Linked DNA regions of Homo sapiens: region 2 is linked to region 1. The links come from fine-mapping of genetic effects on gene expression. Tissue or cell type: whole blood. Region 1 holds a variant in brackets; the other region holds the start of a gene. All regions are shown on one strand. Distances are from middle to middle.

Region 1 (8,202 bases):
CATGATTTGCAGAATTTAAGTAAAATTCTTATTTTTCTGTCTGTCTGTCTTCCCCTCAGAATGTTATTCCCTGAAGCGCAGCGCTTGGAAAGCACGGGCAGGCTGTTAGAGTTGGCAGACATAGACCCTACTCTTCGGCCCCGCCAGCTCTCCATCTCACACTTTAAGAGCCTCTGTGATGTATACAGAAAAATGTGTGATGAAGACCCACAACTCTTTGCATATAATTTCAGAGAAGAACTCAAGCGAAGAAAAAGCAAAAATGAAGAAAAAGAAGAGGATGACGCAGAGAATTACAGACTCTAGCTGCTGCCTGGGGGCGAGCAGCCTACCAGATGTCGATTTGCACTACGTGGAGCTTCTTATATAGGTACTCTTTTGTCTTTACAGAATGACGATACAAATGCCAATGACCAGATGTGACTTATTTTCCTTTTACTATACAGCTTGGCAGAGAAAATAAATATCATCAAATAAGATACAGTACAAGCTTTCTTTTAATATATACTGTATAGATAGTTATGACATGTTTAGTATAAACAGCATCTATTACAATCTATCTTACAAAAATGAAGTATCTGCACATTTTGCCCCTAAACCACATTAAAATAACTTAAATATGCTTTAAATAAAGCAAAAACTAACAAACAGCTGAAAGAAAATGCCCAGAGGATTTTAAAAAATGGCCCTTTGAAAACTATTAATCACGACTTCCCCAGCCTTACTTTTTCCACATAACTTAATTATTAGAATGTAATTTTAAGGATCCTAAATCATTTGATACCTGCTCAAAGTGGATATAAACTAAGTAATTTACAGATTCTGACCAGTTTCATCTAGGTTTCTGATCCACAATAAATTAAAATAACTTAAATCTTTACAACCATTTTGTGGGAAAATGTATACTGCACAAAACCCAGGAATGAACAGTTTTTTTTTTTTTTTTTTTTTGCAATTTCCACTTTACCACCAGTTTAAAAGTAAAATGAGGAATTTAACCCATATCTGGATTGAATCATACTATGATTTTCCGTGGCTCTCTGTTTCATAAAAACACTCCTCACTGACAACAGATGTTAAACTCTGGACACTGAATTCTCGCTCTAGAACAGAATTTAGGTCGATGGTGGCATTTTCAGACTGACTGTCAAGGGACTGGTGACGGATCTGCGCCTTGAGCAAAGTTCCTCTGTCCCTCTTGGTGCTGTTGGCTTTTCGTTTAATGGGGCAGAAGTGCCCCCGGACCAGTTTGGGCTGCTCTCCTCCTTTCTGACCCTCACCCGACTCCGGGCCAGGCTGCTGCTCAGCCTCGGGGTGAACGTCTGGGTCCTCGGAAATCCTCAGTCTCTGGAACTGAATTTCGATGTCTTTAGTAGGGCTGCCCTGCTTCACAGTCTGACGGTGGTCATCATCTTCATCGCTCAGGATGTCACTCTCTTTGATGAGATTGTCGGCAAAATCTGCCAAGCCGGGGTGTGGGTATTTCCCGGGAGAAGTGCTCTTGGAGTCCTGCCTGCCCTCAGCCGTGGGGCAGCCGCTGCTCTGGGTGCCGCTGCTCAAGCTGCCCTCGTCAGAGTCCAGCAAGGTTCCCTTGCCAGTCTCACCGGTCCACTCGTTGCTGGAGGAATTCTTCAGGACTTTTAAAGACCTGGATGAAGCTACAGTGAGAAAAACACATTTCGCTGTGATACAGAAACAGGTTACACAATGTGTAATGTTTGCCTCAAAGCTTGTGTAAGATTTAACATTAAGATTTTATTTTATGATATGACTTCAGTTAGCAACTATCCTGGTAATTAGGCAAAAATGTAGCTACTGAAAACATGGACATTTTTGACTTAGGTTTACAGTTGTAAGTTAGGCAATTCAGCATTTTTAGATTACCAGAGCTCAATTATGTAAATAGAACTAGACACTAGAAACTACTACATGGGCTAAGATTCTTATTTTGCCAAGGAGTAAGTTGAAAAGTTAATTGGTAATAATAAATCTAGGCTCCTTTCTTTCACTAAGGTGCTTTGTAATTTGATCATGAAGATCACACCATATTCCTATGCATCTTCTCACCTTGTGGATTTCCCTTGCTGCTCAATTAAAAGTAGAAAATGCCCCTCCCCCCCCCTTTTTTTTTAAAGACAGTGTCTTGCTCTGCCACCCAGGCTGGAGTGCAGTGGTGTGATCTCTGCTCACTGCAACCTCCGCCTCCTGGGCTCAAGTGATCCTCCCATCTCAGCCTCCTGAGTAGTTGGGACTATAGGTGCGCATGATCACGCCTGGCTAATTTTTATATTTTTTTTGTAGAGATGGGGTTTTGCCATGTTGCCCAGGTTGGTCTCAAACTCCTGTTCTCAAGAGCTCAAGGGATCCACCTGCCTTGGCCTCCCAAAGTGCTGGGATTACAGGCATGAGCCACCATGCCCAGCCTAGAAAATGCTCTTTATCTCTCATATGAGAACTGTCTCTGCTGGAATTTCAAAACAACTTTCTGAAATTTTATGTTATAGGTGTGTGTGTGTGTGTGTGTAGTTCTGTTCTCTTGGATTGAAAGAAGGAAGGGAGTTCTCAGTTTTGGTGTTTCTACAAAGTAATAACAGCATGTTATTTTGATGGCCAGTTTATTTTGACAATGGAGAAAATAGTAAATATGTGGTAGATCTGAAGAGGTCACACTGATTTGACATGAAAAAGCGAAGTTTTACATTTTCTAAGCCTAAAAACAAGAAAGATAATAACAAAATAGTTAATGTAGAAATAAGGTTCTGAAAACTTAAGCTGAAATTTTAGAAACAAGCAGAAAGAACAACGTGATTTGAAATGCTTACTTGGTGCCCTATCGATTAAGAACGAGTATAAGAGGCCCCTTAACTTAGATGGCATTACATCCCAATCAACCCATTGTTAAGTTGATAATATGGAAAGTCGAGAATGCATTTAATGTACCTACTAACCACTGCGGCTTAGCCTAGCCTGCCTTCAGTGTGCTCAGAACACTTACATTAGCCTATGGTTGGGCAGAACACAAGGCCTGTTTTATAATTAAGTGTTGAGTATCTCATGAAATGTATTGAATGCTGCACTAGAAGCAAAAAACAGAATGGTTGTCTGGGTACTCGAAGTACGATTTCTACTGAATGTGTGTCACTTTCACACCACGGTAAAGTCGAAAAATTGTAGGTTGAACCATCAGAAGGTGGAGACCCTCTGTGTAAGGTTCTTGATCTTCATTCAGCATTGACCTTCAGGATGCCTGGCACTGTTCTGAGCACTGGGAATACAGCAGTGAGGAAAACAAAGTCCCTGGACCCATGCACATCTTAGTGGAAGAAACAAAATCGTACATTTGGACTATGTCAGCGGGTAGGAAGACAAGGGACTGGGGGTTGGGGGTGGCTGTATTTTACAGTAGAACGTCTGGGAGCAAGAGGCATGTTTAGGTTTCTTAAAAGGAGATAAAGGTACCTCGATGACTTACAAAGTGAAAAGTCACAGCTATGTTACAAGAGCATATATCCTTTTCAGAAGCTCATAATATTTTGTTGAATAAACACAAGGCTAGCAAAATTCTCACCTAATTTGGCCGAAACAGGAACTCGGTTCTTAAGAGGTACCAGGCGATCCTTACACGTTTTCTCCAGTGGTAATTCACACTTTATGTGACGCCTGAAGTTCTCCCTCAGAATAGAACGAATCACCTTAACAATGTTGGTTTTGCTTTCACTGTCACTGGGTGGGGGGGGAGAGAAAACAGCAGAAGTGTCCACAGTGTTCATCGTGCTTCCATTCCACGCCCGCCTGTGTTCCTGTGCCTTGCACCTGCTGGACCAGGCTGCCAGCCAGCCACCCAGCAGCAGTGCCATGTGGCCTCCCGTACAGAAGGAGGTGAGAATTGATCACTCTTAAGATTTTGATATTTATTTAATCAACATAGTCTCCTACTAGCGGCCTCAGTTGCCTTTTTCGGAGGGTGGGGAGTATGACCCTGATATCATCAAAATTCAGGAGGGCACTAAATATAAATTCCCTTAAGAGACATAATTCTATGTTATTTCTGTTGGTTTTAATCTTTGGAAGTCAGTCATACCTGCAACACAACTGAAAGATGGTTTCTGGCCGTCCTTCTATTTCTGACTTCGTATGGATCAGTTCCCATATGGAATTATTTTCTGTCCCTATGTAAAAGGAAATGGAAACAAGAGTCTACAACTTTGCCCAAAATGCTGTGGTTAAGAACACTTGTAAAGTTGAAATCTCATCAGTTAAGAAAGTCTAATATTCCCAGTCCTGGCTCATTTTCTTCTGTGGCTTGTTCTATGTATGATTTTCACAGTTACAAGAACTGAAATGCCTTTTGGTTACTTTTTA[C/T]ATTTCCTGCTGCAGATTTTCCTCCATCTGAACTGCCTTCACCCTCTCTCTGGAGCCCCTCTCTGGGGAAGAGGAGATTCAGTGGATCCTATTCTTCAACCTCCTTTGCAGTTTTGCCCTTTCCTTGGAAGGAACAGGAGCTGGGGTACTTGAGGTAAAAGAGGCCTGCCCCAAATGTGGTCATTTTCTCGAAAACATAAGCACTTCTGACAAAAGTTAAACAGAAGCCCAGCAGGTCACTGCATGACTCAGCCTGCTGGCCTCTTCTGTCACCAGATACCTGTCACCAAAACAAGGTTACTCTGGAAGGATCTCTGAACATTTTCCAGAGTCAAAGATTTTTTTCTTTTTATATCACCTACAGTACTACCTAACCTTAAGGAATTTTCTGCTATATTCTAAATTTGTAAAAACATAAATTTGTGGATCTTTGTTCTTCTAACACATTTTAGGGTATCAAGGCAGAAAGGAAAATGTTGAAAACTATTGATAGGGAAAATAAGGAAACAATGAAAGGCATTTGGCAAAGAAAAAGCTATCCACCAGCATTTAGTTTCTCCCAGAAGTCTGCTAAGGAACATCAAAACAACCTCTCTTGTCCTCATTTTCCTTGTCTATAAAATAAAAGGCACCAAAAATTATCCCCAAGGTCCTTTCTTAATTTACATTCCACAGTTAAGTCTACTAAAATGCTTTTTCTGGCATCATACTGCACGAAACAGTTACCTGCTGGATTCCCCAGTCTGACTTGAAGCGCGGAGATGGGGATCAACCAGCGGAATTTAAATGGGTCCAAGTCAGTAGAGTTGTGTGCAGGCCGGGAATTCGAGGGCTGTAACATGAAGGCCCACCAAGAAAAGTGTTAGGGAAGCTGTCACTGAGGGAGGATGTGTGCACAGTGAATAGAAGTTTATGTTCTCCCTGTGGGCGAGTCTCCGAGCAGCCATGTGGGTGTTCAGGGCACAGAAGTCAATCAGCTACGCACCCAGTTCTCAAAGACCTCACATGCTAGGGAAGGTGCGGAGGCAGAGTTGTGGTTCAGAAGCAGTTACAGGTCTCAAAGCAAGAACAGCAGCCAAAGCTTCCACGCCCTGACGCTGCCTCTGAATGGTAAACCAATGGCATATGGTATCCACAGCTAGGCTTTGCTTTTTTCTGAGTGAAGGTAAAAGGCATTTGAAAATAAACCAAAGTTTCACAGACTATGTTTATGGAACAAACATGGGCCATTTTCAGGGATATAAAAGTCGATGTTCTATGTAGGCCCCCATATGAGTATTTATCTACTTTATTTACTTATTTATGTATTTATTGACAGGGTCTCACTCTGTCGCACAGGCTGGAATGCAGTGGCATGATCAAGGCTCACTGCAGCTTCCACCTCCTGGGCTCAATTGATCCTCCTGCCTCAGCCTCCCGAGTAGCTGGGACTACAGGCACGTGCTACCACACCCAGTTACTTGTATTTTTGGTAGAGGCAGGGTTTCACCATGTTGGCCAGGCTGGTCTCAAATTCCTGGGCTCAAGCCTCAGCCTCCCAAAGTGCTGAGATTACAGGCATGAGCCACCGTGCCCAGCTGTATATCTTCTTTTAAAACAGACATCTTTCATGGGGAGACTCAGAAACGCTCTCAGTATGTGATGGGGTTAGTTACCCTCAGAGTAAGCAGTATCAGTCAGCCCAGCCTTGGTGCTCAGTGGGCTTTTCAGTTCAACGTTAATAGGAAGATACAGCTATGAAAAGGTAGCTTAAATTAAAATGAATTTTTGCCTTACCAATTTCTTTTTCAGTTTGCAGTTTTCTTTATAAACCAGTATGACGGCTCTCTTAAAAACTAAAGAAAGGAAAAGAGAAAGAAAGTCTTTATTTTATGCAAACTCTTCCAAGGTTAAACTAGAGCTGAACGTCTTAACAGAGTAACACTCTCCAAACGTATGAGTCTCTAAGACCTCACTCTGCCAACATGAGTGAATAAATGGTACTTCCCTTTCGCTCATATTTGAACTATGCAGAAGCACCTGCTTATTTAAAAGCTACTATTAGAAGTTGATCTTGGCTTTTTTAAACTCTTTGTTTTATTGAAAGCTGAGGACACTGTGTTCATCTCAGTGACAATATACTGTCACTTGTTCTCCCAACTCTCAGAATTAAAACATTTGAAATACAGCAGACTATTAAGATAGCAGGTTTCTGGCCAGGCACGGTGGCTAATGCCTGTAATCCCAGCACTCCAGGAGGCTGAGGCAGGTGGATCACCTGAGGTCAGGAGTTCGAGACCAGTCTGGCCAGCATGGTGAAACCCCATCTCTACTAAAAATACAAAAATCAGCCGGGCGTGGTGGCGAGCACCTGTAATCCCAGCTACTCAGGAGGCTTAGGCAGGGGAATAGCTTGAACCTGGGAGGTGGAGGTTGCAGTGAGCAGAGATCACACCATTGCACTCCAGCCTGGGCAACAAGAGCAAAACCTCGTCTCAGAAAAAGAAAAAGAAAAAGATAGCAGGTTTCAAAATAGCCGCAGGGATCTGTTCCTGTAACACTTGGCCTGAGCCAAGCAGCAGAAGGGAGAACAAGATAATGAGGATGCAGAGCGATGCCGGAGTTTCAAATAGTTGGGGGCTGGCCCTGTTAAGTCCCCAACCATTATAGCAATTCTGACTCCTGGAGCTCAGGAGTGAGCTGGACTGGTGCGGCTAGTGAAGTTCTTCCGTAATCCCAGCCTCTGTTCAGTCTGCATTCTTCTGAATGGAATACTAACCAAATACTGTGAGCTCAAGGTCCTTTCTAGCTTTTCCTAGAGACAGAAATGGATTCAACCAGGAAACCGTAGAGTGCATCAGAAGCTCTCCCATCGAAAGTTCTGTTACCTAGATTGTAAAAACAGGAGGTAAGGAAGATACGGAAATCCCAGGCTAGATGATCTCTTGTTAGATAGTGATGTACACACAGTCATTGCTAAAATGCAAGCACAGCTGGTTTAATTTTTATGATACCTGTAAACATGGGGCCTTAAACGGTGGAGCTTTTGAAAATATGAGTTAAGCACCCAAGTGTCTGATGAATAACATAAAGGTGAAGGCATTTTGCTCCAGTGCACGCACATGTAGGTGAGACATGCCTTGTGACCAACTCAGTTTCCATAAGATGAACTCTACCAGTGTCCGTGGTTCTTCCAGAGTGCCTTTTGTAAGCTTTCCCCTGGGATCTAGTACATCCATCACCTCTGAGCTCCATTCGGGCTGCTGATAAAAGAGCACCAGCATTGAAACTGGCCAGAGTGAAGGACTGATCTCCAGTCCTTTCCTGTTCCTGCCATTTTCTCCCTAAACTATGCTACTTCCTGCATGCTGGCTTGAGAAGCACAAGATTCTAAATTAAGCAATCAGATAAAAAGGAAAAATACAGAAAATGTCAAATCCTGCTTGGACTAGTTTTATAAGTAAGCAGGTAACCACCAATATTTGATGTTAAAAAAAAAAAAAAAAAAAGGCAAAATCAAAAAGGAAAAGCCCCAGACTCCACATGCCAGTTCCCATGTCCTTTCTCCACCCCACCCTCTGCCAGCTCTCACCCTCCATGGATGTTCCAGACAATGTGAACGTGACATAAGGTTATATTTTAAACCAGTGTAATGAATTTTATGATATGTCTATATGTAAATTGTGTAGTTCATTAGACACATTGTTATCAAGAAAAATCTTAGGCATTTTCTCCTCCAGGAAAGTCCTAACAGGGCAGCCTATCTAGAAGGTCACCTACAGACCCCACACCACATGCACTAGGCTCCCAGGGTGCAGATGTCTCACGGACCTCCTTCTCTGTTCCGCTCTGCTCAGCTAC
Region 2 (8,179 bases), 60 kb before region 1:
AGCCATAATGCTATTGCACACTTAATAGACAACAATAGAATGTATGCATACCTTTCATATGCACTGGGAAACCAAAAACTTCATCTGTCTCACTTTATGGAGATATTCACTTTATTTTGGTGGTCTGATACTGAACCCATAGTATCTCAAAGGTTTGCCTATATAATAAAGGCTAATTCGTTTATAATGCTGTTAGCATATTTTCTTCATTCACAAAAAGGTTTGCTTACTGTATAGGAAAAAGCCCTACCCATAGCTCCCTGAGTCGAACGAGTTGCCCATCCTCAACATCTTATTAGGATACTTGGCAATAATTCACAGACCTTTGGGGACAATGAGCAGGCTTTCAAATACTGCTTGAAACAGGGATAAACGCTGTATTTTCAAAAATAGTGTAAGTGTTCCATGGTTCCCTCAGGCAATTAGCTCGTGTTGTTGCCATAAGTTGCCCTACTTCTATCCCCACAGAATAAGCATTTGGTCCGTCTGCTCAGAGTTATCACGTTTTTCCTTCTTCCCTCTAGGTAGGTCACTAGATTCCTTTGTGAATGAACAGTGTGCATCAAAGAGCCATTAAAACAAAAAAAACCCTAAATATGTGTGAAATGCAGCTCTTAGTATTTCTCTGGAGCATTGAATCATATTATATGTAATTATAAAATACTATCGGAAAAGGGCACTTTACATACCATAATAGTCATTTTATAAAGTTCAATTTGGCAATTCCAAGCCACATTTAATTTTCTCTGAAAATTCCCACATGGCAGGAAGATATTGCTCTCTGCAGCTTTCAAGTCTCTTTCAGGGAACGGTAAAATGACAACCTTTTAAAATTAGCACTTTTTCTATAAATAGAGACTAAATCACTTATACCAAATAAAGTCACATATGCATTTTTATTAAAGTAAATACTAAAATAATAAGTAATTTTCCTACATAATCATTTTGGGATTTTACGCAAATTAGAATACTACAATATAGTTTAGCATGAATCATTTGTAGTTCTTCATCTTCACTGACAGGTGGGGCTAGTGATTTCTGTATTAATTATAATATTTTAGCATATTAAAATCTGTATCTAGATGAAGCAGACACTTCAAAGCTTCAAAACTGATGAAACTGCATACCTCTCTTTTAAGGGATAAAACCATTTGCATTAATATGTGAAATACACTACTAAAACACCCCCTGCTGATTTCTTAGGCTTTTGCAGGGAGTTATGCATAATTTTCTGAAAATTAAAAACTGAGGATTAGATATTTATGATAAAAATTGGATCTCAAGAACTATTAAAAACTTGGAAGATTCTCCTAAGCTAGAATTTTTAACTCAGTTAAAAAATTATTTAACACGTATCAGAGGTTAATAAAAAGCACAGTGCAGTCAGAAGATCTAAACTCAGTTACACCACTTACTAGCAAAGCACTGTGCTATGGTCTGAATGTCCCCCAAAATTCATGTGCTGAAACTAAATCACCAATGTGATAGTATATTGACAGGGAGGCCCTAAGTGGGTGATTAATTGATTGAGGTAGAGCTCTCATAAATGGGATTAGCAACCTTATGAAGAGCTGGAGGGAATTAGCTAATCCCTTTTTGCCCTTCTGCCTTTGGACATGTGAGGACATGACATTCCTCTTTTCTGGGGGATGCAGCAACAAGATGCTATCTTGAGGTAAAGAGAGCAGCCTTCACAAGGCAACAAACTTGCCAGCTCCTTGATCTTGGACTTTCAGCCTCCAGTACTGTGAGAAGTACATTTCTGTTCTTTATAAATTACCCAGTCTCAGATATTTTGTTATAGCAGCAGGAATGAACTAAGACACATCTTTGTGAACCTACATCACAGAATTGAAATGAGAATTAAGTAACAAAGGAAGCTGCTTTATAAATAGGTTCAGTTATTGAAGATGGCATGGTATAAACCATCCATAAATTCATATTTAGATCTGGGGACAAATTATCAGGAATCTACAAATTCTCCACGCAAAGGTGTTTCACTCATTTAGATTTTAGTTTGTTTTTATGTTGATGTTAATCTTTTAAAAAGCTCATGTGATTATATTTGGGGTCATCTGAACATCCTCTTTATACCTGTTACACAACGTGTGTGTTCATGGTAGCATTAGTGCCAAATAATTCAAATTCACTTGTTTCCAAGCTACTGAAAACAGATGCAGGCAGACTTAATATGTAGCTTCCATATTCTTCCAAAAGAAAGACAAGCGACAATGGAAAAAAAATTGAACAAAGATTTGGTAATAGTTTGACTCCAGAAAACTAATGAGAACATTCAGTCATTACATGGCACACTGGATCACTGGTAGGCTGAAACTTAAAAAAAAAAAAAAAAGAAAACCTGCCAGTTAGCACTAAGTGTCGTGATTTAACAGTGTTCATCCTTGTCAATTAATAAGACCATTTGTATTGGTTTTGTATATATTTATTGCAATTGTTTTAAATAGTCATATGAAAACTGTAAGCTTATGTTTACACCTAGATTCGTATTTCTATATATTTAGATGTTACAAAATTAACACATATTAACTTAAAAATAATAAGCTGATACTTGAGTGTGGCCAGTGAGATCAGAACTCAGAAAAAACACAACTCAGGTTGTCTTCTCTCTGTACTTTGCTGTCTGACTCTGGGCATTGTCAAATGACCTCACCTCCCCTATTTCTTCACAGCAAACTAAGAATAATAATCTCATTCACATGGGACCATTGTGAGGAGTACGGGAAATAATGAATATAACTGTGAAATAATGCTTTGTCAGGTATACTGTGTTTTGGACGATAAGATATCTGAATCAAGAGTTTGTACTTCCAGTCTACATTTTGATGCCACGTTGGGCAAATCTCCTTACCTCTATGGTAGTCATCACTATTTTTTAAAGCTAGGAGATTATCTCAGTTCCTTTTAAAACAGCTTTTATAGAAGGTGGTTGAGTTTTCCACTGGAATTTCAAAGTACTCCTCATTTTTATATCCATACCCATAGTTGTTTCGTTTTCCATTAGCTTTTTTAAAAACTTACTAATTGAGGAACAGAAACTTTAAAATTCATTTGTGATCAACGCAGCAATGTCCAAACATAAGCAGGGTTAAAACAGCAAAATTCTCCCACCTATCAGAGAAACTTTAATTTTTTTTTTTTTTTGCTTCGTTGTTTTTATCTCGTATAACGGAAAGACAGAACTCATATTTCAGTCTTCTCTCTGTTCTTAGCTGTAATCCTAGCAAATCGAATGACCTCTTTACACTGGCCAATTATTCATCTGCCAAATAATAACAGCCACCACTGATCACGTGGGAGCTTACCCAATGCCATGCGTGCACTATGTTCTGAACGTGCACACCAGGCGATCTCTCTCATTTAGTGCTCACAATTTTGAGGTAGACATTAGCTCCATTTAACTGATGAAAAAACTGAGGCTGAACGAAGTTAAAAACCCATCATGCAGCATCTGCAGAGCGGCGGTTCTAAAAACGCCTCACAGTAAGAAAGAATTGCTAACAAACAGTAGCTTTGCCTCTAAGCACCCGCTTTTCCTCTAATATTCACAGACAGGTATTTAGAACGTTAAAGAGCCGGAAGCCCTTGGGAACTTCAGGGCGGGAGTAAACCGGCTGCACCTCTCAGAGCAACTCCTCCGAAAAACCCCACCCTGTCCAGGCCCCGCCTCGTCCCGCCCTCCTGGGCGCTCTCCCCATAGCCCGCCCAGGAGAAGCCTAGTCCACCCGGCTCTCCCCCGGCTCTCACAGGCGGAAGCCGCCGACCACCCAGCCTGCCCTTCTCGCGGCAGGACTTAGCGCATGCGCTCTCAGCACGCCGGGAATTTCCTGTCCGCGGTCATCGCTTCCGGTGGGATAGGTCTGACCAATGGGGCTGACTCCGAGGCGGGCCTTAGGTCTCGCAGGTTCCTCCCCTGCGCGTTTCTTTCGGAGCGGCGGTGAAGGTCCTGGGTGAGGTAGGGTTGGATGGTGCTTGCCGCGTATCATGGCTGCCTCCGGAAAACTCAGCACTTGCCGTCTCCCTCCGTTGCCCACGATTCGAGAAATCATTAAGTTGTTAAGACTGCAAGCAGCGAAGCAGCTATCACAGAATTTCCTCCTGGACTTGAGGCTGACAGGTGGATGGCTTAGCAGTGCTCCCCGGATGTCTCCCCAGTGTCCGTGGGGGCGTGGGCCGGGGGGTCTTGCACGTCCCCGCGGGCGGGTGTCCAGGCACTGGCGTGCGACGGGCTTTTGGTCAGGTCCTTCGACCTCTTTGTATCAGAACTCCGGTCCCACCGCCCAGGAGACACGTGAAGTGCGTTGATTGCTCACAAAACTCCGCGTTCGGGGGGGTGTAGCCTGCCGGCAGGCTGCATAAATGCCAAGCTCCCTAGGGGAGGAAGGGTTCATGGGTCGTGAAAGGCGCTAGTGAATATTGGAATCTGGGTCACTGTGAAATCAATCATTCTGAAATAGTACAGCACATGCTGACTGCAGTTGCTTTACATGCAGTTTAAAGTTACCAGAATTTAAATTGATGCGAGGATTTTATCAATAACTTGGTGAAAAGAGTATCCCTCGTATGATTCGTTTTTTAAACGTTTACCTGTTCAGTCTAAGCCTCGGGGGCGCTAATATTCATTCATAAGTACATATTACACAAGCAACATTGTGCTAGTGCCGGGGGTAGGATATGGGCGTGAACAAGGCGGTGTTTCCTCGAGGAGCTTACTTTTAGCAAGTTTACATTCCCACACCTAATTGTTTAAAGTTACTTTTTATGAGATATAATTTATGTGCAATAAAATTAATAAGTTTGAAGTGCTCAATTTGATGAGTTTTGACGAATGTATTTATATATTGGTTTAACCACCATCACCATTGCTTAGTGATGTTCTATGAGATGAGGTTGCAAAAATATATTACAAATACGTCTACTAAGTCACGGCTGGAGTACTTAGGTTTTGAGATTTTCATATTTCATTCTATTTAGTCCCACTTCAGAAGTTGAAAAGAGCAGTAAATCACACCCAAAAAGTTCATTTTCACTTAAATGAAGCACACTCCAGAAAACATAAAATGTTTTATTTCTTGGACATGTAGTCTTTATTCTGCCTGTACCAATATGACTTTGGATAAAATAATTTAACTCAAGTTTTCTCTTTTTTTTTTTTTTCTTTTTTTAAGATGGAGTTTCACTCTTGTTGCCCAAGCTGGAGTGCAATGGCATGATCTCAGCTCACTGCAACCTCCGCCTCCCCGGTTCAAGTGATTCTCGTGCCTCAGCCTCCCAGGTAGCTAGGATTACAGGCGTGAGCCACCGTGCCTAGCTAATTTTGTGTTTTTAGTAAAGACAGGGTTTCACTATGTTGCTCAGGCTGGTCTCAAACTCCTGATCTCAAGTGATCCACTCGCCTCGGCCTTCCAAAGTGTTGGGATTACAGGTGTGAGCCACCATGTCCAGTAGTTTCCTCATCTTTTAATTGGAAGAAGGGCCTACTACTTTAAAAGATTGCCCACTCTAAAATTCTTTGGTTCTAGTAATAGCTAGTACCAGCCTTTTCTGCTTGTTATTAGCCACATTCTAAATATAAATCACCATTCTCAGGGCAGAAGTTATAGGTCTGTGTATTTTTTAAAATCCTTCAAATACATTTTCTCATGAGCCTTTATCTTCAGGAGTAAGTTTCAAATTCTAGATATTATCCACTCTTTCTATGGGAACCAGAGTTAACGGAGATGAGGGTACTTAGCTGAGGTTAGAAGCTCAGGCAGAAGAGAGCAAGATTGAAATCCAAGCTCATTGATTTGATAGCGCTTCTTTAATATTCATTTGTATTTCAATGTGCCTGAAAAGTTTGAGAGCAGAGACCTGCCTACTGTTGTAGCTCTCCATTTTAAAGAAGGAGAGTATTAAATTTATTCCATAATGTATCATTCCTGTTCCCTCTGAGAGGCATTGGCTTTAGGATTTATACCTATGTTGAAGTCCATGACCTTGTACAAATAAAACAATAGACAAGGAAACTGAAAAGTTAAGAGAAATGAAATTGGGATAGGAGTCCTTGGTTAACATGTAAGGATTAGGTGAGAATGTGTGTAAATCCATCATAATAGATAAGATGGTCAGTGGATGCTAATTCCCTCCCTGTTAAAAGACTAAACCATTTTTGGATGGCTGAGAAACTAGTTTCCGCATTTTAGCTGACAAAGTTATGTTGTTGAAAACAAGCAAAAATAGGACTGTGAACACCTACAAGAAGTGCTGGTATGTTTTTAGTGACTAAATTTCCACTATCCTAGGAAGACCAGTTCCTTGGATTTCCATATCTCAGAATCACTAAGACCAGCCCATTGCATGTTTTTCCAGATGTGATGACTGGTTGCACAGAGTCAGTACTCTACCTTTTTATGATGTCTTAAGGGCTGCTAACTTGAATTTGATTAATTAAAAAATTAATTTTTCTGTATTAACATGCATGTGTGCAAAGCTTTAAAAACCCTCAACTGCTCAATTTAACTTTTTCCTGAAAATGACTAAGAATTCAAATTTCTGAAAATCTTACGATCTAAGAACTTATTGCCATTGCCATAGTGACCACCACCAAGATGTCTCTAGATAAAAATAAGACTTCAGCACTTTTTGCTTTTGGATTTCACTAGCAATACTGAAGATTCTGAATGTGAAACTAGTATTGCTTATTCAGATATTCAATGTTCAATAACTATAGAAAAGTGCTGCATTCTTATCCAGTCTGTTCTTAGGAGTCGGTTGGTTTCAAATCAGTTTGAAAGGAATTTGCATGGGACAGATGGAAACTACAATATTAGCTAAATTTAAGCTAAGAAACTTTGTCATGATAATCCTGTGTGTGTTAAGGGACTGGTACAGTTCAATGGTGATGTGGTAGCATATTCGATTGCCACTTCATGTTAATTTAGGTAGAGAGTTAAATAGTCAAATAAATATTATACATAAAGGATCAATTGATTGGGTAATGGCTGAATTTTTATAGAAGATTTTTCTCTCTAAATTTCATACGTTGAAATTTGCCAAGTTAATTGAGATAACTAAAACTCTTTTTCCTCTAGATAAGATTGTAAGGAAAGCTGGCAATCTGACAAATGCTTATGTTTACGAAGTGGGCCCTGGGCCAGGGGGAATCACAAGATCTATTCTTAATGCCGACGTCGCTGAACTTCTGGTGGTTGAAAAGGACACTCGATTTATTCCTGGATTACAGGTGAGATGCTTAAAGTGTCTGCTTTAGGAGGCAAAAGCTGAATTTAAATCTTTATGCCATGATGCTTAAACCCCAAGGTATCCAAAGATTATGTAGGTTTTTCCTCAACTATAGATCCCCAAGGCCCCATTCCAGAGATTTTGATTCCATAGTCTGGAGAAATCTGGAAATCTCCATTTTTAACAAGCACTCTCAGAGGGTCTATTGACTACACCTTGAAAAAAACCTGCTTTAAGCATTTATGCTAAACAAATTAATTGTTTTGTGTGATTTTTTTTTTTAAGTCTGCTAATAGCTATGCATGTCGTGGCCCATTCCTTCAAAAATAAATAAAAATAAATAATGGCCAGTAATGACTCATTGGTATGACTTTTGAGAACTTCATTTAGGTTCAAAAAGCATTTCCACAAACAAAAGATGAGTAAGACATATGCACGTTTGTCATCATGAGAGACTAATTATGAAGCTTAAGCATTCTTTTATAAGGTAAATTTTTTAAGTGAAGGAAGGAAGTTGTACTTTTATAGATTTAGGATGAGGTTTAAATGAAATGATACATGCATCTTTAAAATACAGGCACTGTTATTGTATAAGAAATGAGAGTTGAAGGAACTGGGCATGTTTCAACTGGAGAAAAGAGGCCCTGGGTAAGAGTGTATATAGCAGCACATCCAAGGTTGGGGGTACATAGGATAAGCTTGTTTTGATCTTTTCTAAGAAAGAGCTAAAACAAATAGATGGAAATTGAGGGAGGCAGGATTGAGGATTTGAAATAAGGAGGAACTTACTTTTTTTAAAACGCTGGCAAACAGTGAAATAGATTGTATCAGGGATCTTGTAAAGGGATTTCCTCATAGGGGAACACTTAATGTCTTAAAGGCCTTTGATTCCTCCATAATTCTAAAATTTTAAAAGAGTCCTGAACCTTTGGCTCAG

The links. PIP is the estimated chance that this variant, and not a neighbour inherited with it, causes the effect.
Region 2: TFB1M starts here. The variant in region 1 is fine-mapped to the expression of TFB1M in whole blood (TOPMed, PIP above 0.99). The same link has a PIP of 0.9 or more in lung.

The regions. Positions count from the first base shown.
Region 1 is chr6:155,249,940-155,258,141 of GRCh38, reverse strand. It overlaps TIAM2 (TIAM Rac1 associated GEF 2), which reads right to left. Exons shown (of 27, transcript NM_012454.4): 21 at 8,173-8,202; 22 at 7,121-7,229; 23 at 6,139-6,197; 24 at 5,089-5,194; 25 at 4,082-4,169; 26 at 3,569-3,723; 27 at 419-1,658. The coding sequence ends at 1,021. It overlaps TFB1M (transcription factor B1, mitochondrial), which reads left to right. Exons shown (of 7, transcript NM_016020.4): 7 at 60-2,008. The coding sequence ends at 306. Among named protein-coding and RNA genes, the nearest start is that of CLDN20, 10 kb to the left of the region's middle. RefSeq lists enhancers at 3,211-3,784, 3,785-4,359. The variant C/T (reference allele first, on the strand shown) is at 4,363.
Region 2 is chr6:155,310,252-155,318,430 of GRCh38, reverse strand. It overlaps TFB1M (transcription factor B1, mitochondrial), which reads left to right and starts at 3,947. Exons shown (of 7, transcript NM_016020.4): 1 at 3,947-4,135; 2 at 7,092-7,243. The coding sequence starts at 4,003. RefSeq lists enhancers at 3,133-3,182, 3,733-3,782, 2,864-3,854, 3,853-4,172 and a silencer at 3,603-3,682.